7 linked regions of the Homo sapiens genome follow. The protein of the gene in region 2 purifies or fractionates together with the protein of the main gene of each other region. This does not show direct contact. Each region holds a gene or a part of one and is shown on either strand. Other genes may lie near its edges.

Region 1 (3,500 bases), on a different chromosome or scaffold from region 2:
GGTAAAACCATAAAAGTTCTCTTGGACTTGTTTTTAACTGTCTCATCTGAAACAAAATTATATGCATTTTGCTTCACAAATCACTGTGTTAAGATGATTCTGAAATAGAACGCTTGAAAAGGCCACAGAGTCAAAGGGCATTCTATTAGCGCGTTTAGATTATATGAACCAATTTACTGTTTGAATGGGTAAAAAAGACATTCAAGAGATGGCTTTAAAAAATATAAGAACGGTTGTCAAAGAAAAAAGATGTCTTACAGTTTAGAAAAATCAGTAAGTAAAGACTGTCAAGCTTCAGTTCAAGTCAAGAGCTTCTGCCAATACATCAGTACATCTGTCACAGGGTGATGTGATATTTAGTGTTCCATGTGGCATTTTACAATTTTTACATGGCCAAAGCAGCAAAACTTTTATTATTACTTATATAGAAGAGCTTTATAGAATGCATGAGAAGGGGCAGTGTATTAAAGGAGTGCAATTCAGCATGGCTTGGGATAGGAAGGTGCTTCAACACACCCATGGGCCTGGTCAGTGCAGAGCCGGCTTACAAGAGAAGCAGTTTCTCCAAAGGGATTTGCAAGCCAAGGTGTAAATTCAATAACCAGCAATAACGAAGCAGCACCCGGAAGCCAGAGATGAAACCTTAAAGAAACATCATACGAGACACTAGAAGAGCCTTCCAGACTTTTAAAATAAAGAAGAGAAAACAAAGCCTGTGAATGTTTAGGAAGGGAATAAGATCTGGGAGAGCAGCATGAGCAGATGAAGAAAAAGTACCTGTCACCCAACATAACTCTTCAGCAAAAATCACATATTTTTACACACAGCCTAGCACACATATTATTATAATTTTTTTCCCCAAATTGAAATATCCTTCAGCTTCATGAGTGAGCATAAGAACACACAGCAGGTTTTGCCAACTCTACTGGAAAGGATAAAATCCAATCTCATTTTGTCAATAAGTATTTATGCAAGGTTATGTAAAAGGCAATGTGAGGGCACAAACTGTATAAGAGAGTCCCTGTCCTAAGGCAGTTTAAAATAAAGAGATAGGATAGGCAAACCCATAACCACAGTACAGGGCAGTGTGTGACAAATGCCCCCCAAACACTGTATGCCCAGGCCTGCAGGAACGGTGAGGCTAAGGAGGAAGGCTTGAAGGGAGGCAGGCCTGGGAGGAGGGGAGCCATCTCCCCAAACAAGGATGGGGGTGAGCCTTGCCTGGCAGACTTCTTTCTGGAACCAATGCACCTAGGCAGGAAATGTGACCTGTGTGCAGAGAAGCAAAGCTGCCCTTCTGACCACAACTAGGGGTTAGAGTGGGTGGGGGGCCAGGAAAGAAGCTGCCCACCAGTTCCAGAAGGCAGAGGAGAGATGCTGACGTAAGCATGAGTTTTGTTAGGCAAAAGAGAGAAGACAAAGAATAAGGTCAAGCGAGGCTCTGGGAATGTTACTCAAACGGAGAGAAAGAGAATCTGGGGCTCTTATACCAGTTGAAGAATAAGGTCATAATGGCCTGCACTGGGGTGGTGGCAGAAGGAAATGTACGAGGGAGACAGAAAAGGCATTTATTTATTTACTTATTTACTGAGACAGAATCTCATTCTGTCGTCTAGGCTGGAGTGCAGTGGCACAATCTTGGCTCACTGCAACCCCTGCCTCCCAGGTTCAAGTGACTCTTGTGCCTCAGCCTCCAGAGTAGCTGGGATTACAGGTGTGTACCACCACACCTGGCTAATTTTTGTATTTTTACTAGAGACGGGGTTTCGCCATATTGGCCAGGCTGGTCTCGAACTCCTGACCGTAAGTGATCCGCCCATCTTGGCCTCCCAAAGTGCTGGGATTACAGGCATGAGCCACAGCGCCCAGCCAGGAGAGGCGTTTAAACAAAGGGGCAGACACTGGAGGAGGAGCAGGAAGAAAGAGGGAAGGAAGCAAACATGACTTAGTGGTGGTCTCAGTGTGGGTAACCCACATCATCTTATATAATTCATCCTCACCACACTGGGAAAGGTGGGACAGGAACTATTATCACTAATTTACAAATGAGAAAAGTGGGAATTAGGGAGGTTAAGTGATTTACCAAGGTTTCCCTACTATGAGTGTGAGAGCCAGAATTTCAAGGCTGCCTCTAGCTAAACTGGTTTATTGTTAATAGGGCTCTCCGGGTCGAGCCAGGGAAACCCTAAGGAGTAGAAACAGTGTTTTTAGTTCCCCAGTGGCCAGCTAAAGGTCAGCAGGAGGAGGCAGTCAAGAAATGTTAAAAGATTCAATGTCAAATGATACTCAAGGAGGACCTGGGCACACACATTCCTAGACAGGAGGTGAGACAGCTGCCAGCAAACACTCTCACTCTAAACCCTCTCACCACTGGATTCATCTCTGATGTTGCTGAGTGCCTCTGGGAACAAAACCCAGTGCTGGGCCAGGGGTGGGGTGGGGCTACAAAGCTCCTACCCTCAAGGAGCTTCAGTCCAACAGAAAACACATATATGAATGCTATAATATAATGAGAAGTCAGATTTTATAAGACAAGTACAGATAAGGTGTCATGGTAAGGGGTGGTGATTATCTGTGGAGATAAGTGTGGGCTTCCTGGGAAAGGTGATATTGGATTCCATGCTAGACTTTGGGGTGAGCACCTCAGTCACTTGTTTTTTCCCTCAAGGCTGCCCTTGAAAGTCATTTGAAAATTACTCGGCATTGGAGATGGGAGGAGGTAGAGGAAGAGGGAGGAGGCACTTACACAGCCTGACCCAAACCCCTGTGGAATTAATCCTGATTCCATTTCCAAAGTAACTAGGGAACACACCCAGTACATGAGCTGCGATGTGGAAGAAACTGTTCTCAAATGCAGCTCCACCACTCAATGGCCATGGAAACTTCAGCAAGTTAATTAAACTCTGAACTCCCTTTCTTCATCTGTAAAATAAATGATGATTCCTTTCAGGTCTGCTCTGTCACAGTAGGATTAAGAAGATAAACACAAATAACACTAACAAGTGACTTCTGAAATCAGGGACTATGGACTATGTGCTTTACCTGCTGCTATGGTTTGGATATTTGATCCTAATGTTGGAGGTGGGGCCTAATGCGAGGTGTTTGAGTCATGGGTGTAGATCCCTCATGAATGGCTTGGTGCCATCTCAGTAGTGAATGGGTTCTCACTTTGTTAGTTCCCATGAGAACTGGTTTTAAAAGGAAGCTGGCACCACCCCCTTCAGCTTCCTCTCTCTCCACGTGATCTGCACCTGCCTGCTCCCTATCACCTTCCGCCGCCGTGACTGGAAGCAGCCTGAGGCTGTCACCAGATGCCCAGTCTTGAATCTTACAGCTCATAGCAGAGCCGTGAGCTAAATAAACCTTTTTTCTTCATAAATTGCCCAGCCTCAAGTATTCTTTTATAGCAACATAAATGGACTAAGACATCTGCTTTACCACATCTAATGTGCAAAGCCCTCCCAGGTAGGGATGATTTCTATCTCCATTTGACAAAGGAG
Region 2 (3,500 bases):
CAGAAAAAGTTGACTTTAGGACAATAAAGTGATTCAAAGGACATTACTAACCGAAAGGCTTTCCAGCTGTCCCCAAACATCCAACAGCCCCAGGCCTGTGGTAAAATAACCATTTAGTGTAGTATCATGATGGAAAATGCTACAGCAGCAAACAGACATATGATAATGCTGAATATGCATAAGGTAGCCAAAGGTACATCAGAATTTAGAAAACAGCCTAAAATTATTCTGCCTAATAAAAGCTTATCAAAATTGCCAGCTAGAAAATGCCTTACAGTTGAAGTCCTCTTATTGATGAAGATAGCATTAATTTTCTGGACAAGATTGTTCCATGTTTCTTTTGGGATGATCACATGCCTTTTTTGTTGATAGGAAAAGGGACAAATTTGAAGAACAGGTCTCTCTAATTCATATATCACCTCTGCAAAGATTTATTCCAAGTTAGAACAAGCTCACTTTGTCTTTGCAGTGACTCTCCTCCATTCTCAGGCACCTCATGACCAACATTTCTCACTAAGCATGATTTCAACAATCCCTTTGAGTATCACCTCAAAAGAGGGTAAGTATACTGACCTTCTAAACGTTCTACGAATAAGCGCTTCAAGCTTTGGTAAATCCCAATTTTAATGGTGCCATATGATGCTTGTCTTAGCAACGCAGGAGCAATTCTGAAAAAAAAAAAAGTAAAAAGTTATTCTCAACATTTTCAGATTATACATATCTAGATAGCCTACTTATTTGGACTACCCATCTCATTCTACCCAACAACAGCAGAATATGATTTTTTTCAAGCACTCATGAAACACTCAGCAAGAAACTGAACATTCTGGGTCATAAAACCAACCTCAACAAATTTAAAAGAACTGAAATCATATACAATATGTTATCTGACAATAATGGAATCAAACCAGAAATCAATAAGAAAAATCCTCAAACATTTAGAAATTAAACAATATATATCTAAATAATCTATTGGTCAGACCAAGTGTCTGTCAAAGGAATTTTTTTTTAATTCACAGGTCTAAATGACAACAAAATTCAACCTATTAAAATGTATGAGATGCAGCCAAAGCAGTGCTGAGGGAAATTTACAGCATGAAATGCTTGCATTTTAAAAAAAAAAAAGGGGGGGGGGGGGTAGAGTCTCAAATCAATAATCTATGCTCCTACCTCAAGAAACTAGAAAAAGAAAAGCAAAATAACCCAAAGCAAGCAAAAGAAAATAATAAAAAGCACAAATCAATGAAATTGAAAATAGGAAAATAGAGAAAAATCAATGAAACAAAAAGTTAGCTCTTTAAAAAAAAATCAACAAAATTGATAAACCTCTAGCAAGACTCACAAAGATAAAAAGACAGAAGATGCAAATAAGAAATGAAACAGGGACTAGCACTACAATTCCTGCAGCCATTAAAAGGACAATAAGAGTATGGTATAAACAACTTTATACTCATAAATTCAACACCTTAGAAGAAATGGACAAATTCCTTGAAAACCAGAAGCTACCAAAACTCAACTAGATAAAACAAATAATCTGAATAAAACTCATACCCATTGCAATGGACTGAATGTTTGTATCGTCCCCAAATCAAGATCTTAAAATCCTAACCCGCAATATGATGGTAATAGGAGGTGATTAGGTCATGAGGGTAAAGCCCTCATGAACAGGATTAGTGCCCTTATAAAAGGGATCCCAGAGAGCTCCCTCACTCTGTCTGCCATGTGAGGATACAATAAGAAGTCTTGGCAGTCTGCAACCCAGAAAAGAGACCTCAGCAGAACCTGACCAAACTGGCACCGATCTCAGATTTCCTGCCTCCAGAACTGTGAGAAATAAATTCCGATTGTTTATAAGTCACCCAGTCTATGGTATTTTGTTATAGCACCCCAAACTATGATAACCTTAAAGAATTTGCACTCTGAATTTAAATGTTCCCCAAAAAGAAATAGCCCCAGATAATTTCACTGGGGAATTCTACAAAACATTTTAAAAATTAACACTAAGCTTACACAGTTCCTTCCAGAAAACAGAAGAGGGAATGCTTCCCAACTAATTTTGGCTAGTATTACCCTGATACCAAAACCAGACAAAAACAGTACAAAAAAGGAAAACCACAGACTAATGTCTCTCATGAACTTAGATGCAAAACTCCTTAAGAAAATATTGGTAAATTGAATCCAGCAATGTATAAAAAGAATTATACATCATTGCTCACCTAATAAAGATTTTTTTAAAAAAATCAACCTCTACTTCCTAACAGTTGCAGATACGTCTTTAATCACATCAACAAGGAGGTACTAGAGCCAAAATTCCACCCTATTTAAGTTCTCCTTTAAACTGGAGACATTCTCATTCATACCTCCTTTGGGATTCTTCCAAATTGCAGAACTATACTGTAGGAGGTATAAATAGAAAGACAGCAGCAGCTCAAATGGTTAGGATTTTTAAATGATGACTAAATATGCATATTTCTGACTTTATTGCTTGCTATCAGAAAATATCTTGTGATGATCTATGCTGATGAAAGAACAAGGTGAAACAGATGATCCACAAATCAGGATGGTGGATCATCTTCAGGATGCTTCAGGATACACTACTTGATTTTTCCCCCAAGAAAATTACCTTTTAAATTAAGTCTAACATAGTTTAACGATGTAACATAGTTTAACAATAAAATTGATGTCTATTCTCTGAGTAATAAACTGGTAGCCTAGATGCAGGAGTGGCCTAGGAAACTGGCAACAGATAAACTACAAACTAGACAGTAAACCACAAAATTATGGCTAATCAAAAGGTGATGATAAAGATGGGTCTCCCTCTCTCTCATTATGCACTTTCTGTTTAAACTGCAAGAATAATATTTTTTCAAAGAGGAAAATTTTAAAGGAAGTCAGAATTTGCCAACTCAGGAGGGATATCACAAAAATATATATAATTAATTGGTGCTGTTATTAACAGTGGCTATTAGTGACTCTCGGGAAATCCACAGAAAGCCTATGCTGCAATGACATATCCATTTTAAAATGTTATTATCACTTATAACCAAATGAACACAAAATCCAAAGCTCAAGACTTACAAGCAGGAGAAATATAAACTGGCATATCAATACTGAATTACAAGTTGAAATGGTGAATATGAAACGGACACAAACTATCAGACAGCTGAAAACTATGGCTTCTTTAAAAAGCATTTCTGTTAATGATATAAGGAAAGAACCAGTCTCACCCTGAATAGAGAGCCAATACACCTTCCTCTTTACAGATGCGAAACAGCGCATGGAACATCCCTCTATATTTTATCTCTTTGAAACGGGCATCAATGCTTTGGCCTTGAACCTGAAGTCGTGTTTTGGTAAGGTCCACAGGGAAAGTCCCTATAAAGGAACACACTTATTTATAAGTATGTCCAAAGAATCACAGTTAAGTTGTTGCTAAATATAAGCCAAGGACAATATTTGAATCCTAAGACAAAGTCCTTTTTATAACACATAGAAGAGCT
Region 3 (3,500 bases), on a different chromosome or scaffold from region 2:
CCTCACATGGTATACCTTTCAGGTTCCACTATGGAAGAGTAATTTTCAAGTTCTCTGCCATTTTTCTAAAATTGTCAACATTTCCAGGTACTCTGGTAAATTTGTTTTAAGGAAAAGGAAGCTTAAAATGTGATAATTTCCTAATCAACACTTCGGTACTGCAAATCAAATCCTTAAAGATTTACCTTCATCATACATTTCCTCTATCAAATAGGCCTCTGCTCGATCTTTCAGGGCATTCACATTGTCAGGTTCCATCTGTAAAACTTCAGAACAAACCCTAATAGCTTCAACAGGCTTCTCGTCCTAAAAGGAAATGTGAGACAAGGATTTATGGTTGGTATTCCACATGTTGAGTTTTCACATTTCTGGGAACAAGTCAACTGTTACCTTAGAAAAGCAGTGGCAAATCCTCTCCTTTGAACGAACTGTATATTCAGCAATGCTTGGCTCTGTTTTCATGACAGATTCATATTTGCTGGTAGCATCTGTGTATCTAAGAAATGAGCAAATCATGATAAGAAATGATGACATTTGATTTCCAGAGCTGTAGAAAGGCTCCTCCCCTCTTCACCATGTGTTGCTTAATCAATCCAATTGGATGAGCCCATGGCTTCAGATTCGGCTTTTCCCTTATTAATCTAGAGTCCCATAGAAGGTACACTCCATAATTAAGAGTTAGGAAATAAAAACATATGACCATAGGAGATGCAGATGGACAGAACAAAGCATACCTGTGAGTATAAGTACCAATCAAACCAGAAGAATTTCCTTACAGAAACATTGCTCAGAATTCCAAACCTGAGTAAAACACCCTGTTGAAGTCTGACTTACACTGAGCACCTTGAACAATACAGAGATCAAGTTTTATTTCTTGGTCAGTAAACACTTCCATGAAAATAATGGAACCCATTACGTGCCATTTTATATAATTAATGTCAGTATTTACAACAAAGTACAACGTAGTTCACACAAAAGGTACCTGATTAAATTCCCAACTGTATAAGCTTTCTAAGAATAAAAGCTATTTCAGCATTTTCTTTAAACCAGTAAAAAGTACTAATCCTGTTATATACTCAGTTATTTCCCTCAACAATAGTAAAGTAAAAAATATGTTTCTATGCCATGGTGGCACACTATTCCCAAAGTGCTACAATCTTCATATGTAAATATGCCAATGTATTAAAACACAGGCTTAACTAAAACATTTAAAATAAAAGCCAGCTTCTCTATCATCCTCAGCAAACTAACGCAGGAACAGAAAACAAAGCACTGCATATTCTCACTCATAAGTGGGAGCTGAACAATGAGAACACATGGACACAGGGAGGGGAACATCACACACGGAGGCCTGTGTGGGGCAGGCAGCAAGGGGAGGGAGAGCATCAGGACAAATAGCTAATGCATGTGGGGCTTAATACCTAAGTAATGGGTTGATAGGTGCAGCAAACCACCATGGCACACGTTTACCTATGTAACAAACCTCCACATTCTGCACATACATCCTGGAACTTAAAGAAGAAAACAAAAAAGCCAGCTTCTGGGAAAGTGGAATAGATGTATTTGTCCCAAGTGCTCCAGCTAAGCACAACTAAAAAACCCTAGAGATTATATGTATATTTTTTAAAATAGAAAACTTTCAAAGGAGGAAAAGAGACAGACTAGCTAGTGACTCAGGACCTGAGGAAAACATGGTAAGACGTTCCCTGGGTTCTTTTTTTTTGTTTCATATATCCCAGACTTGGAGCTGAAGATTCCAGCAATGCAGAAACGCCAACAGGTACAGAACGACAATAACAAAAACCTGCAGAAGTCTGCTCTGTCTAGCCAGAGGACCTGAAAAGGACAGACTTGCAAACAGAAAACATTTTTTTTAGAGACGGAGTTTCGCTCTTGTTGCCCAGGCTGGAGTGTAATGGCACAATCTCGGCTCACCGCAACCTCAACTTCCCGGGTTCAAGCGATTCTCCCACCTCAGCCTCCGCAGTAGCTGGGATTACAGGCATGCGCCACCACGCCCGGCTAATTTTGTATTTTTAGTAGAGACAGGGTTTCTCCGTGTTGGTCAGGCTGGTCTCAAACTCCCAACCTCAGGTCCTTCAATGGATAAATGGTTAAACAAACTGCAGTAAATCCATACCATGGAAACTACTCAACAGTAAACAAGGAGGAATTATTGATACAATATGGATAAATCTCCAGACAATTCGAATGAGGGGGAAAAAAGCCCATCCTGCCAGCTGTGGTAGCATGCATCTGAAGTCCCAGCTACTCAGAAGGCTGAGGCAGAAGGATCACTTGAGTGTACTATGACTGTATCTGTGAACAGGTGGGCAACATAGTGAGATTGTCTCAAAAAAAAAAAAAGCCAATCCCAAAAGTTTATACATTGTATGATTCTATTTATGTAACATTCTTAAAATGACAGAATTCTACAAGTGAATAGATTAGTGGTTGCCACAAGCTAAGGAAGGGATAGGAACAAGAGGGAAGTAGGTGTGGCTATAAGGGCAACATGAGGTGTCCTTGTTGGGATGGAATTATTCTGTATCTTGACTGCACCCACGTCAATATCCTGATTGTGACAATGTACTATAGTTTTGCAAGGCGTTATAGTCTGCAAGATGTTGGGGGAAACCGAGTGAAGCATTCTCATGATGGCAACTTACAAAGCTACTAAAAGTAGAGGAATTGGAGCCTATTTTCTATTAGGCAGTTTTGTCTGCAGTGCCCTCTACTCTTTTCAGTCCTCCTGCCCAGCCTATAAACCCCCTACAAACAACACTCACACAGACACAGCCTCTTACTTCTGTCCACTTTTACTTATTCTTTAGGATTAGGATTTAAATATCTATCACCTTCTCTAAAAAAAAAAGCTCCTCTTTTACTCCTTGCCTTTACCATCCTGGTTTGGAGTAAATACTCCTCTTTGGTACTCCAATTATCCTATGTACATTCTATCACTTTGGTATCATATTGTCTTTTAATAATCAATTCATATATTTGTCTCCCACGCAATGCTATAAACTTCTTAAGAACAAAAACTATTGTCAAGTTTAAGTCTGCACCCTCAGTACATAGCTCAGCCTGATATAGGAGATAATAAATATTTGGTATAGTACAAGTAATTCTGCTGGTAAGGATACTACACAGTTACTATTATTTATATTCTTCCCTATTCCAAAAATGTCCAATTCTGGTAGTTTTGCTAAGGCCCAGGGCTATCTAGAATACCCCACCCTCAATGGCTGAGAAGTAAAAGAGCAGTTCTGTAGTTCACTTGTGCCCACAGCCCCGCACATAAGGAATGGCTGGACAGTTGGAACAACCATATTCTCACCTGCCATCTCTGATGAGCTCTTCAGCTGACTCAATCAGCTTATTAAGTTTCTTTACTTGTTTATAGTGTGCAAAACACCTTTTATGATCCTGGTCAAGTTTAAGACATTCCCGAACTTCACTGTTCATGTATTTAAAAAAGGAAAATACTCCATGTCAAA
Region 4 (3,500 bases), on a different chromosome or scaffold from region 2:
GAGAGAAACAAATACTGTTGGGTGATACCATTTTTGAACTCAAATTATTCCCCAAAATAATTCTGCAAAAACAACGCCTGACACACTACAGAAGATAAACAAATATGTGATAGACAGTATGAACAAAAGAATAACAGAAATAATACAACAGAATCAGATCCATAGTAGCTCCATAAATTAGAAGATACCAGGTATCACACAAATTTTAAAGTAAGTAGAGCCGGGCACTGTGGCTCGTGATTGTAATCCCGGCACTTTGGGAGGCCAAAGCGGGTGGATCACTTGAGGTCAGGAGTTTGAGACCAGCCTGGCCAACATGGTGAAACCCTGTCTCTACTGAAAATACAAAAATTAGCCAGGAGTGGTGGTGCGTGCCTGTAATCCTAGTTACTCAGGAGGCTGAGGCAGGAGGATCACTTGAACCCGGGAGGTGGAGGTTGCAGTGAGTGCAACCCAGAGCATGCCACTGCACTCCAGCCTGGGAAACAGAGTGAGATTCTGTCTCAAAACAAACAAACAAACAAAAAAGTTTACCTTTTATTATTCCATTGAGATAGAGGAGAAGAAAATGAGCAAATTAAACTAGTGTTTATGGATACATGCTTAAACAGTAAATCTATAAAGAAACAAAAATGATTACCATAAAAGTCGTGATGCTAGACACTTTTGTTAGGGAGGAAGGATGGCTTCTGGGATGCTGATAATGTTCTAGTTCTTGAACTAGGTTGTGGTATCTGGGTATTTGCTTCATAATAATTCCTGGATGTATGTGAATATGTATGTATGTTTTTTGTATACTTTTCTTTATGGATGCTACATATCACAATAAAGGTTTAAAAACATTTAAGTAGACTTAAGCAAAATAAAATGCTTAAAATATGTGAAATATGTATCCAAAACCCTTAAACTACAATCTCACCTCTGAAAAATGCTTAACATTAACAAACAGTAATTTAGCTAGCCTTGAAACACATCATGGTTTCTGACATAGAAAAAGGGGAAGCTGTGATACTATACTGTGATTCTATACTACGAATCCTGAGCTATTTAGTTCCTACAGCAGAAAAACAAACTGACCCTAGTAGGTAGAGAAACAAACCTATGAGATTAGTTTGAGTACAAAATACAAAGATATGCTAATGGTTCAGAGAGGCAGCATTCTCCTTCCATCTCTCTCCCCAGCCAGCATCAAATCTATGACATTTTTCACGCTGATATGTCTTGAGGGCAGATAAAAATCTCTCTCTCTCTCTCTCTCTCTCACACACACACACACACACACACACACACCATGAAAAAACAAGACGCCATCCTGTGAGGAGAGGACTGAAGACACAAGTAATACTTCATTTTCTGATGCAACACTGTATACCCGTCACTCACAGTTAACCATAAAAAATGGACACTTACTTGATCAAGATTTGAAAGGCTGTTAGGGTCCTGACTCAGACCTTGGTACTGTCCCCTGAGTCTGTCACCAGCAGCTATTTTCCTAAACTTCTTCAGATCCACAACATATAGTGCACTGAATAAAGAAGACCCGCTTGTTACAACCAACCATGGATTACGACAGGAAAACTAAACCCAATGAATAATGGAACAGGCCACTAGCCAAATATTCTGGCTTTTCTTTGAAAAGGTATGCTACAGCCCTACAGTGGAGTTAAAGTGTGCTACTTTAAAGATCTCTAAGAAAGTCACTGCAAAATCTATACTGTGCTATGCTTTTGTTACTGTTCTGTATTTGCCATCCGAAAGAAATAATCTCAGACCAAAGATTTCTAGCATATGCGGCAGTAACAAAAGCCATAGTAACTGATAAACAACCATTATTCAATGATATCCTGATGATGTCTTCAATGTTACAGGGGGGGGAAAACCCCAGAGTGTTACAGTCCTTACAGTTCTTTTGGACCAGGAATGTAAAGAATGAAGCCACCATCACTAAACCCCAGCAGTGATCTCTGCATGTGCCGCTTCCTACACGTTCCTCTTCCCTGCACATCTTCAAATCACACTTCTCGCAGAGAAGAGAATGGGGTGCTCATTAGAAATGTAACAACACACACACTGTTCGACCTAAAAGGTCTACGTCTAGGAATTTATCTCACAAATATATGAGATATGAAAAATTATTTAGTAGATTATTCATTGCAACATTGTAGGTCACAGGGAAAACTATAAATAACACTCACACACTGGAATAATATGCAGCTATGAAAAGGAATCAGGTCTCTCTCTATTCACTGAGAAGATGTATATGACATTAAGTAAAAAAAAAAAAAAAAAAGCCAAGTTACAAAATGTATAAATAGGTAGCATATTTTGTGTAAAAAAAAAAAGAATACACATTCACAGCTGTTTCTGTAAGAATTAAGAAAATCTGGAAGGATAGACAGTCAATAAGTTGGGAGGTTATCTGCTGTGAGAACAGGAACTGAGTAGGAAAGAGAGAGACAGGATTAGGAAGTTTTTTTTACACTGTATTTTTTTTTTTTTTTGAGATGGAATCTCACTCTGTCATCCAGGCTGGAGTGCAGCGGCGTGATCTCAGCTCACTGCAACCTCCGCCTCCTGGGTTCAAGCAATTCTCCTGCCTTAGCCTCCCGAGTAGCTGGGATTACAGGCGCCCACCACCATGCCCAGCTAATTTTTGTATTTTTAGTAGAGACGGGGTTTCGCCATGTTGGCCAGGCTGGTCTTGAAATCCTGACCTCAGGTGATCCACCTGCCTTGGCATCCCAAAGTGCTGGGATTAAGGCATGAGCCACTGCACCCAGCCACTGTGTATTTTTTATCATTTTTATTTTTCAACCATACCAATGTATTACCTATTCACAATTTTAACCACACAAAATCAATTTTAAGGAAAACCCCGTAACAGTGTTAGGAGTGCTTCTTTTCAGTACCTGATATGATACTTTCGCCCGGCTAAATGACTGGCCCAGTACCCTGACTTCCAGAACCTGTAGCCGTCCATTTCTCTTCGGCTGTCACAGAAAGGAGTGTAACCATAAGGAGCACCATCCAAATTGAAATCTCTTAACTCTTTCAGATCTGTTCGTACAATCTGGAGAATATAAAAAGTCATTTGTTAAGCAACCATGCAGACAGCTCTAATGCGGTTTCCTTCAGATACAGAGTGGCTCGCTTAAGGCAGCATGGAAGGCTGCTCCGTGGTTAGTGGCACAGGCACTAGGGGCAGATGCACTTTGATTGCTCCACTTATTACCTGGTTGACTCACTAACATGTAAGACACTTCTTAGCAAGGTGTGTGGGAGTAGGAATAAAACAAATTTCAACTGCTTAGCCTTTCTGTGCCTCAGTTTCTTCATCTGTAAAATGGAGATAATGATAATGACAGTACCTATCTCACAGGGTTGCTGGGAGGATTATGTAAGTTAACATATGGATGGACAGATGTAGAATAATGCCTTGCCCATCGTAAGTACTCAACAAGGATTAAATGTGGCTATGTTACAATCAGGAAGGCACACTT
Region 5 (3,500 bases), on a different chromosome or scaffold from region 2:
AAAACAGAACCTCTTTAAAACATAAATCTCGCAGGACCTATAAAACAAAAATACAATTAAAAAAACAAGGTATACAGGCAACAAATAGCACAATGAATAGAATGGTACCTCACATCTCAATACTAACATTGAATGTAAAGGGCCTAAATGCTCCACTTAAAAGATACAGAACTGCAGAATGGATAAGAATTCACCAACCATCTGCTGTCTTCAAGAGACTTACCTATCACCTAAGGACTCACATAAACTTAAGGTAAAGGGGTAGAAAAAGATATTCCATGCAAATGGACACCAAAAGCGAGCAAGAGTAGCTATTCTTATATGAGATAAAACAAATGTTAAAGCAACAACAGTTAAAAAAAGACAAAGAGGGACATTATATAATGATAAAAGGCCTTGTCCAACACGGAAATATTACAATCTGAAATATATATGCAATAATGGAGTTCCCAAATTTATAAAACAATTACTACTAGACTTAAGAAATGAGATACACAGTAACAAAATAATAGTTGGAGACTTCAATACTGCACTGATAGCACTAGACAGGTCATCAAGACAGAAAGTCAACAAAGAAACAATGGATTGAAACTATACCCTGGAAAAAATGGACTTAACAGATATTTACAGAACATTCTACCCAACAACCACAGAATATACATTCTATTCATCATCAGTGCATGAAACTTTTTCCAAGGTAGACCACTGATAGGCCACAAATCAAACCTCAATAAATTTAAGAAAACTGACATTATATCAAACACTCTCTCAGACCACAGTGGAATAAAACTGAAAATCAACCCTAAAAGGAACCTTCAAAACCATGCAAATACATGGAAATTAAATAACCTTCTCCTGAATAAGTCAACAATGAAATCAAGATGGAAATTTAAAATGTTTTTGAACCGAACAACAACAGTGACACAACCTATCAAAACCTCTGGGATACAGCAAAGGCTCTGCTAAGAGGAAAGTTCATAGCCCTAAATGCCTACATCAGAAAGTCTGAAGGTGCACAGACAATCTAAGGTCTAACCTCAAGGAACTAAAGAAACAGAACAAACCAAACCCAATCCCAGTAGAAGTGAAATAACCAAGATTAGAGCAGAACTAAATGAAATTGAAACAAACAAAAAATACAAAAGATAAATGAAACAAAAAGCTAGTTCTTTGAAAAGATAACATAAATAGACCATTAGCAAGATTAAACAAGAAGAAAAAAGAGAAAATCCAAATAAGCTCAATTAGAAATGAAATGGGAGCTATTACAACTGACACCACAGAAATACAAAAGATCATTCAAGGCTACCATGAACAACTTTATATGCATAAAGTAGAAAACCTAGAGGAGATGGATAAATTCCTGGAAAGATACAACCCTCCTAGCTTAAATCAGGAAGAATTAGATACCCTGAACAGAACAATAGTAAGCAGCGAGATTAAAATTGTAATAAAAAATTGTCAACATAAAAACGTCCAGGACCAGACATATTCACAGCCAAATTCTACCAGACATTCAAAGAATTCGTACGAATCCTATTGACACTATTCCACGAGACAGAAAGAGGGAATCCTCCTGAAATCATTCTATGAAGCCAGTATCATCCGAATACCAAAACCAGGAAAAAAACATAACCAAAAAAGGAAACTACATACCAATATCCCTGATGAACACAGATGTAAAAATCCTTAACAATATACTAGCTAACCGAATCCAACAATGTATCAAAAAGATAATCCACCATTATGAAGTGGGTTTCATAACAGGGATGGTTTAATATAGGCAAGTCAATAAATGTGATACACCAGATAAACAGAATTAAAAATAAATATTACATGATCATCTCAATAGACGCAGAAAAAGCATTTGACAAAATCAAGCACCCCTTTATGATTAAAACTCTCAACAAAATCGGCATACAAGGGACATACCTCAATGTAATAAAAGCCATCTATGACAAACCCACAGCCAACATAATACTGAATGGGGAAAAGTTTAAAGCATTCCCTCTGAGAACTGGAACAAGGCAACCATGCCCACTCTCACCACTTCTATTCAACATAGTAATGGAAGTCCTAGTCAGAACAATCAGACAAGAGAAAGAAATAAAGGGCATCCAAATCAGTAAAGAGGAAGTCAAACTGTCGCTGTTAACTGATGATACGATTATATACCTAGAAAACCCCAAAGACTCCTCCAAAAAGCTCCAAGAACTGATAAAAGAATTCAGCAAAGTTTCCAGATACAAAATTAATGTACACAAATCAGTTGCTCTCTTATATACCAACAGCGACCAAACTGAGAATCTAATCAAGAACTCAACCCCTTTTACAACAGCTCCAACAAAAATAAAATGCTTAGGAATACACCTAACAAATGAGGTGAAAGATCTCTACAAGGAAAACTACAAAACACTGCTGAAAGAAATCATAGACGACACAAACAAATGGAACCATACCCCACGCTCATGGATGGGTAGAATCAATACTGTGAAAATGACCATACTGCCAAAAGCAATCTACAAATTCAATGCAATTCCCATCAAAATACCACCATCATTCTTCACAAAACTAGAAAAAAAATCCTAAAATTCATATGGAACCAAAAAAGAGCCCACACAGCCAAAGCAAGATTAAGCAAAAAGAATAAATCTGGAGGAATCACATTACCTGATTTTAAACTATACTATAAAACCATAGTCTCCAAAACAGCATGGTACTGGTGTAAAAACAGGCACATAGACCAATGGAACGTAATAGAGAATCCAGAAATAAACCCAAATACTTCCAGCCAACTGACCTTCGAGAAAGCAAACAAAAACAAAGTGGGGAAAGGACACTCTATTCAAAAAAATGGTGCTGGGATACTTGGCAAGCCACATGTAGGAGAATGAAACTGGATTCTTATCTCTCGCGTTATACAAAAATCAATTCAAGATGGATCAAGGACTTAAATCTAAGACCTGAAACTATAAAAATTCTAGAAGATAACCTCAGAAAAACCCTTTTAGACATTGGCTTAGGCAAGGATTTCATGACCAAGAACCCCAAAGCAAATGCAATAAAAACAAAGATAAATAGGAGAGAGGTTCCAAGATGGCTGAATAGGAACAGCTCCAGTCTACAGCTCCTAGCATGAGCGATGCAGAAGAAAGGTGATTTCCGCATTTCCAACTGAGGTACCAGGTTCATCTCATTGGGGCTTGTCAGACAGTGGGTACAGGGCAGTGGGTGCAGCCCACAGAGTGTGAGCCGAAGCGGGGCAAGGCATCGCCTCACCCGGAAAGTGCAAGAGGTCGGGGAATTCCCTTTCCTAGCCAAGGGAAGCCGTGACAGATGGCACCTGGAAAATCGGGTCACTCCTACCCTAATACTGCGCTTTTCCAACGGTCTTAGCAAACGGCACACCAGGAGATTATATCCTGCGCATGGCTTGAAGAGTCCCATGTCCACGGAGCCTCCCTCATTGCTAGCACAGCAGTCTGAGATCCAACCGCAAG
Region 6 (3,500 bases), on a different chromosome or scaffold from region 2:
CTCTAGCATGTAGTTAAGAAAGTCCAGAGAAAGGTAAATACTACAGATATGGATGTGATGATTTGATAATCATTAACTTATGGTGGATGATAAGCTGAGACTGTAAGTACAGTCTCTAAGAAAGCTTAGGGGGCTGGGTGCGGTGGCTCACGCCTGTAATCCCAGCACTTTGGGAGGCTGAGGTGGGCGGATCACGAGGTCAGGAGATCGAGACCACGGTGAAACCCCGTCTCTACTAAAAATACAAAAACCTAGCCGGGTGCAGTGGCAGGCGCCTGTAGTCCCAGCTATCCGAGAGGCTGAGGCAGGAGAATGGCGTGAACCTGGGAGGCGAAGCTTGCAGTGAGCCGAGATTGCGCCACTGCACTCCAGCCTGGGTGACAAAGCGACACTCCATCTCAAAAAAAGAAAAGAAAAGAAAAGAAAAAGAAAGCTTAAGAAGCTTACGTTTAATAAGAGAAGAGTTGACCTGGTGAAGATGAGTATTTAAGAGATAGTGGGAGAATCAACTTAGCAATTTATCTTTTGTTAAAAGAACTATCCATTTCTTTGAAAGGTTCTACATCTGGGCCATAAAGCTGGATACAGTTATTATAATGATTTTCATATTTATTATACTTGCTTATTCCTCAAGCCAAATACTTGTTTCTGCTCATTTTTCTTGATTAGGCTTGCTAGATAACTGTCTAATCTTAAGCAGTATTTTCAAAGAACTAGGTCTTATATTTAATTCTAGTATTTCTCTGACTTCAAACTTAATTAATTAGTTTGAAGGCAATGTAACAGTGGCTCAGGGCAGGGCTATGGAGTCAGACTAACCCAGATTAGATGCTTCCCTGACTGTTTGACTTAGAGCAAGTCCTTTAGTACGTCTTAGCCTCAGCTCCTTCATCTGCAAAATAGAAATAACCACCCCCAGATACCTTCACAGGGCTACTGTGAAGAATAAAGGGTATAAAGCCCTGTGCACAGAAAAGGATTGTTAAATGTTAGTATAGGCTTATAGGCTAAAATCGCAGTGTTTTTTTGTTAAATTTTTCTATCTGCTTTCTTTAAGCTTATCTTGGCCTTCACAGTACTTCCCAGCTTCCAAATACCTTCATAAACCTCATTTCTTTTGATTCTCCATCCTCCAAGGTAGATACAAGGCACACTGTGCCCACTGTACACATGGGGAAATAAACTCAATGTTAATGAACATGTTTAAGGTCACAAAACAAAGACATAGCACAGCCGGGTCTTGCCACAGCAATGAAGAACATGGTACATTTGTCACAACTCCTTCTGCCAATGCTGGGTCCTAGTAATGAACAGTTTAGGTATAGCAGTGTCTTGAAACTTCTTTCCTCTCCTCCTAAACCTCACACACAACTGACCTTAAGAAGAGCAGTTTCAGCACATTGACGAGGACAAAAGCTAACCATAGAAGGTCCAAGAGAGAGTGGAGTGGTGGAGGCAGTCCATATGAACATCTCCTTTGAGGAATTCTGCTGTAAAAGGAGGCAGAGGGATGGGGCAGTGGCTGGAGGGGTGTGTGGTCATCTTAGTTGCTTGTATTTTCAGGATGGTAGTTTTATTAAGACCATCTGTATGCTGACGGAAGACAAGAGGAAATGAGAGCCAGTGAACAGAGAGCTGAACTAGGCAGAGGCACCGGCCACTCATCCACCACAACAGGACAGAAGGCAAAATCTACCAGTCCATCTGCGGGCAGGCCAGTAGCTGGGGTGGTGGGGAGCAAGGAAGTTGTTTTCTCACTGCTTCTTAGTCAAATAAGATGACAGTCGTCACCTCCAAGGAAGGAGAGAAGGTGGCATTGGCAGTAGCATGTATTTCTCACACATCCATGTGTGTGAGAAAACTGACTGAAAGCTTATAAGTGGCAAACCCATGGCCAATTTATAAGGAAATCAACAGCTGCTGGGTAGCACTTATCACTCGACCACCTAGTTATAACAGACAGCACACTGAGCTACTTGAAAATAAGGATGACTGGGCTTTTCCCTTGGATGAGCTACAACTTAAAAGTAGAGTGCCAGATATTTATTGACAATCCTAACCCCAGGTATAGGGTAAACCTGCGAAGAGAAGACAGAATTCTTGTGGCTGAAAGAACTACCTGAAGGCCAGGTGGCTGTGTGGTATCAACTTGTAGTGCCTTTTGCTTTTATCAATTTCTGCACTTATAAGACAACCACAGGTGGCCAGGCGCGGTGGCTCATGCCTATAATGCCAGCACTTTGGGAGGCCGAGGCAGGCGGATCACGAGGTCAGGAGATCGAGACCATCCTGGCTAACATGGTGGAACCCTGTCTCTATTAAAAATACAAAAAAATTAGCCGGGCGTGGTGGCGGGCGCCTGTAGTCCCAGCTACTCGGGAGGCTGAGGCAGGAGAATGGCATGGACCCAGGAGGCAGAGCTTGCAGTGAGCCGAGATTGCACCACTGCACTCCAGCCTGGGCAACAGAGCAAGACTCCATCTCAAAAAAAAAAAAAAAAAAAAAGACAACCACAGTTGACATCATATACTGCATTGCTCAATGGCCCCGAAATATGGTCCCAAGTGGTAAATTCCTTTGAGAGTGTAATAACAGGAAAAATGCTCTGAAGAATTTATATGCTTCATTTAATGAAATGAAATATTCATCGGTACCTGAGATGTATTATCGTAAAGCAAATTGAAAATAGACACTGCCTGCTGATTATTAAATTATAAAGTAAACATATAATTAATCCATAGGAACTAAGGATCCACAAAAGCCATCTTAAAGAGACAGAAGTTTTTTGTTTTTTAACAAAGCTTGAATGTAATAGGATCAAAGGTATCTTAACCCACATACAAATATAAACATATGTAAAGAATCAAAAGAAAAGGAATTCACTGCACGGGATGGAAAAACAGGCACAGTAGCAAATTACATGGAACAGAACAGAAGAAGGATGCCTTAACCAACAAAACAGGCCTTCCCCACAAAGGCCAGTTACTTAGCATAAGGTTATAAACTAGATTGAAGATGCATCAGATGCTCAAAGTGACACATACTTTTAAGAGCTAAAAGCTTTCTCATAAGCCCACACATACTGGCAGACAACATCAACTCCACAGGGAATGCTGAAACAGAGCTAGGCACTGACATGAAAAGATTAGTGACAAGGGAACACAGAGTCACTGAGAACATTGCAAACACCAGCAGGGAAGAGTTGCAAGAGAAGACAACTGGTCTTCTTGTGCAGAGGTGGTCCTGAGATGCACCAACTGATTCCTAAGTGAGAGTCTATGGAAAGAATGCCAGCACATGTGCAGTGTAAGTCCACTGCATGGTGCTGGACTCTAAATCAGACAAAACATTTCCCAAATGAAACTAGGGTTAGCATGGAATGAGACTATCGGCAATCTTAAAAACAGACAGCTATTGATTTCGGTTCTTTCTGATTACATCAGTTGTTCAGCTTATGAAAACGTATTGAGCTATCTACACTTAGGACATATGCACTCTCC
Region 7 (3,500 bases), about 110 Mb from region 2:
AGGATTTTTTCCGATTTTGGTATATCTGCATACTTACTGGTTGAACATCCCTAATCTGAACTCTGAAATGCTTCACTAAGCATTTCCTTTGAGCATCATGTCAGCACTCAAATTTTGAATTTTGGAACACTGTGGATTTCAGGTTAGGGACGCTCAATCTGTATTCTGTAACTTGAAACCAGGAGACATGGGCTGATGCTCTAACAGGAGGGTACTGACACAGCAGATAGAAAACAAAACGACATTGCTCTAGATATCTGGAGCCCCAGTTCTGACACCCAAGTAGAAATTTCTGGTTGATGTGAACCCTATCAGGCTGAGAATGTATCCCCAAATTTCCTTGGGAAAGCAATCCCAAATTATTTGGGATGCCATAACTTTTTCCTTAGTGGATATGCATTTTAATCCTCGGAAGATTTATAATTACTACAGAAGTGATGAAGCACAGCCCGGGCAACATGGCAAGACTCCATCTCTACAAAAATAAAAATTAAAATAGGTATGGTGGTGCAAGCTTGCAGTCCCAACTATTTGGGGAGGTAGAAGGATTGTTGGAGCCCAGGAGTTCAAGGCTGCAGGGAGCTATGATTGATTGTGCCACTGCACTCCAGCCTGGGCAACATAGTAAGACCCTGTCTTTCTTTTTTTAAAGGAAATGATGAAGCAAATTAAGCCTATATTTTAATTTTTTTTTTTTTTTTGAGACAGGATCTCACTCTATTGCCCAGGCTGAAGTGCAGTGGTATGATCTTGGCTCACTACAGCCTCGACCACCTAGGCTCAGGTCATCCTTCCATCTCAGGCTCCCGAGTAGCTGGGACCACAGGCATGCACCACCAGACCTGGCTAATTTTTTTTATTTTTTGTATAGATGGGGTCTCACTATGTTGCCCAGGCTGGTCTTGAACTCCTGGGTTGAAATGATTCTCCTGCTTTGACCTCCCAAAGTGCTGGGATTATAGGCGTGAGCCACCATGCCAGGCTATTTTAATATTTTTACATTAAGAAATAATCAGTACATATTTATATGTTAAGTTATTTATAATGTTTAAGAGAATTTGGCATATTAGAACTACTTAAGTATTTGGGAAGGTTTGTCTGAAAATTGAGATACTTAAGGAATTCAAATATATTAAATATATAACTGCATTTAAAAATACTTATGGGAATTAATTTCTTAGGGAAATGTAATTAATTAAATTGTAGCTCACCAAGCAATGAAAATTTGTTATACACACACAGATTATAAATGAGAAAAGCTTGTGTTTCAAATTTGTAACTTTAATAAATTGAATATTATGTTTTAAAACCAATAGTTCTGAATCTTTTTTTTTTTTTTTTTTTTTTTTTTTTTTTGAGATGGAGTTTCACTCTCATTGCCCAGTTGCCCAGGCTGGAGTGCAATGGCGTGACCTCGGCTCACTGCAACCTCCACCTCCTGGGTTCAAGTGATTCTCCTGCCTCAGCCTCCTGAGTTGCTGGGATTACAGGCACCTGCTACCACGCCTGGCTAATTTTGTATTTTTAGTAGAGACGGGGTTTCTCCATGTTGGTCAGGCTGGTCTCGAACTCCCGACCTCAGGTGATCTGCCTGCCTCGGCCTCCCAAAGTGCTGGGATTAGAGGCATGAGCCACTGTGCCCAGCCCAATTCTGAATGGTCTTTATTGTGCACAAAGTTTTCTGCACAAGACTGTGGACACTATAAAAACTCATATTAACATGTAAATTTCCAATTTTGAGACATGTTGCCCAACTGCTCTCCAGAAATGCTAAACAGCTGTGTGTGAGTGCCGTTTCTTCAATTTTTGTCCACAGTGGATACATTTTTTCAATCTTTTAAATCTTGGCCAACCAGACAGGGAAAATTGGCATCTCGTCATTTTAATTTGCAATTCTTTATAACGAATTTAGGTAAAACATCTTTTTATGATTAATGAATTTTTAAACATTTTTTAAAATTCATTTTTAAAAAGTATTGTTTCTTCAAAATTGTAAAAGCTGAGTTTGACTATATAACTGTGTAACAGAGAAATGGCATATTTTAAAGATTTTTTTCCTCCAGATTATGGTAACCCAATTTATCATAAGCATATAATTCAGTGGTTTTCGCTATAGAAATCACATCTATTGCATTTAACTTTTCCCCTTATTTTGAAATGTCCTATAAAATCCTTAAGCATTTTTATTATAGCAGCTGATTATATTACTCTTCTCTCTTTTTTTAACCTGGAAAATGTGTAGTTACATGTATTACTCTTAGATAAAGCTATTCCTGAATTGTCTGATAAATGACTATATTCTTATATCATATCAAGAGTTATCTGTCCATGCTTTAAGAGTAAATCCATTCTTTTTTTTCTACGAATATAAGTGTAAGATACTGACCAGGCCAAATGGGTAAACTGTGAATCAACAGAGCATGCTACCACTTCAGTATTTATAGATCTGAATTCTTCAAGTCTGTCGCCAAAAGCGATAATTTCAGTTGGACACACAAATGTGCTGAAAGGTAAAAAAAAAAAAATATTCAGTATTCTCCAAATAAGCATATACCTAAACTTTCAAATGACAATTTTTACAAATACCTTTAATAATAAAAATGCACATTAAGAACAATTTTATATTTGAACCTTTTCAAAATGGAGTAGTCTAAAAGACTGTCATTTAATCAAATATTTAAGACAGAAACATATTACAGAGTTCCCAACTACATCTCAATAAACTTTCTTATTACAACTTAATAGATCAGTAGTCAACCAATGTTCCCTTCTCCCTTATAGCAATAGCCACCCCTCATTTTATTACTTTTATTTAATAATACCTTTTATTTATATAGTATTTTATAGCTTTCAAAGGATCTATACAAATTTTATGTCATTTCACTATTTTTTTTTTAATATTCCTATACCAACCCTATGAATTAGATGCATCTATGTGTATTTTGGAGAGGAGGCAATGTTTTCCAGTACCCCCACCCCTCCTTTCTTGATAAGGTCCTCTTCCACCTTGTCTACCAGTCCTGTGCAGCCAGGGATTTTATACCTTAATACCCTCATGTTGTCAGGCCATGTTTACAGAATATTACTAGGGTGGCATTTTTTCAAACCGTGGTAGGGACTCCTTAAATTAACTGAGTTCTAAAAAATATTTTTAAAAAGTGAAATCGAATAGAAAACAGGAGACTCTATCATACATACTAAGGGTAAATTATGAAACACATATTTATATATACAAATATATATGTTTGTCTTCAACAGTGATGATATTCAAAATATTTAACAATCTTAACTCAAAGCTGGCTTTAGTTCTGGAGGTTTCTGAAAGGGATCAGGCAGGAGGACTAACTAGTTGGTGAGGAAAGGGAAGTGGCTATTTACCACATGATATGAGGGTTTTTCAGTATTTTAAGGAGCATGGCTGTGCTGGTGCATCCAGATGGAATGTTACCGTATATATATGTGCCTGTGTACTGGCTGACAACGAAAAATGTATTTCCTAC

Evidence for each region.
Region 1: the proteins of SLC25A14 (region 2) and PPIC purify together in Homo sapiens (affinity purification with mass spectrometry; one large-scale study listed by BioGRID and IntAct). This does not show direct contact.
Region 3: the proteins of SLC25A14 (region 2) and DNAJC3 purify together in Homo sapiens (affinity purification with mass spectrometry; one large-scale study listed by BioGRID and IntAct). This does not show direct contact.
Region 4: the proteins of SLC25A14 (region 2) and UGGT1 purify together in Homo sapiens (affinity purification with mass spectrometry; one large-scale study listed by BioGRID and IntAct). This does not show direct contact.
Region 5: the proteins of SLC25A14 (region 2) and UGGT2 purify together in Homo sapiens (affinity purification with mass spectrometry; one large-scale study listed by BioGRID and IntAct). This does not show direct contact.
Region 6: the proteins of SLC25A14 (region 2) and TTC13 purify together in Homo sapiens (affinity purification with mass spectrometry; one large-scale study listed by BioGRID and IntAct). This does not show direct contact.
Region 7: the proteins of SLC25A14 (region 2) and PRDX4 purify together in Homo sapiens (affinity purification with mass spectrometry; one large-scale study listed by BioGRID and IntAct). This does not show direct contact.

What each region holds. Positions count from the first base shown.
Region 1 is NC_000005.10:123,030,226-123,033,725, forward strand, and holds part of PPIC (peptidyl-prolyl cis-trans isomerase C precursor), read right to left. Parts: intron 1-3,500. UniProt on the Homo sapiens protein: PPIase that catalyzes the cis-trans isomerization of proline imidic peptide bonds in oligopeptides and may therefore assist protein folding.
Region 2 is NC_000023.11:130,346,419-130,349,918, reverse strand, and holds part of SLC25A14 (brain mitochondrial carrier protein 1 isoform 1 precursor), read right to left. Parts: intron 3,376-3,500; coding exon 3,228-3,375; intron 669-3,227; coding exon 574-668; intron 96-573; exon of another isoform or gene 52-95; intron 1-51. UniProt on the Homo sapiens protein: Transports inorganic anions (sulfate, sulfite, thiosulfate and phosphate) and, to a lesser extent, a variety of dicarboxylates (e.g. malonate, malate and citramalate) and, even more so, aspartate and glutamate and tricarboxylates.
Region 3 is NC_000013.11:95,760,639-95,764,138, reverse strand, and holds part of DNAJC3 (dnaJ homolog subfamily C member 3 precursor), read right to left. Parts: intron 3,461-3,500; coding exon 3,341-3,460; intron 497-3,340; coding exon 391-496; intron 307-390; coding exon 186-306; intron 1-185. UniProt on the Homo sapiens protein: Involved in the unfolded protein response (UPR) during endoplasmic reticulum (ER) stress.
Region 4 is NC_000002.12:128,181,700-128,185,199, reverse strand, and holds part of UGGT1 (UDP-glucose:glycoprotein glucosyltransferase 1 precursor), read right to left. Parts: intron 3,071-3,500; coding exon 2,910-3,070; intron 1,526-2,909; coding exon 1,411-1,525; intron 1-1,410. UniProt on the Homo sapiens protein: Recognizes glycoproteins with minor folding defects. Reglucosylates single N-glycans near the misfolded part of the protein, thus providing quality control for protein folding in the endoplasmic reticulum.
Region 5 is NC_000013.11:96,043,402-96,046,901, forward strand, and holds part of UGGT2 (UDP-glucose:glycoprotein glucosyltransferase 2 precursor), read right to left. Parts: intron 1-3,500. UniProt on the Homo sapiens protein: Recognizes glycoproteins with minor folding defects. Reglucosylates single N-glycans near the misfolded part of the protein, thus providing quality control for protein folding in the endoplasmic reticulum.
Region 6 is NC_000001.11:230,968,862-230,972,361, forward strand, and holds part of TTC13 (tetratricopeptide repeat protein 13 isoform a precursor), read right to left. Parts: intron 1-3,500.
Region 7 is NC_000023.11:23,673,993-23,677,492, reverse strand, and holds part of PRDX4 (peroxiredoxin-4 precursor), read right to left. Parts: intron 2,504-3,500; coding exon 2,387-2,503; intron 1-2,386. UniProt on the Homo sapiens protein: Thiol-specific peroxidase that catalyzes the reduction of hydrogen peroxide and organic hydroperoxides to water and alcohols, respectively.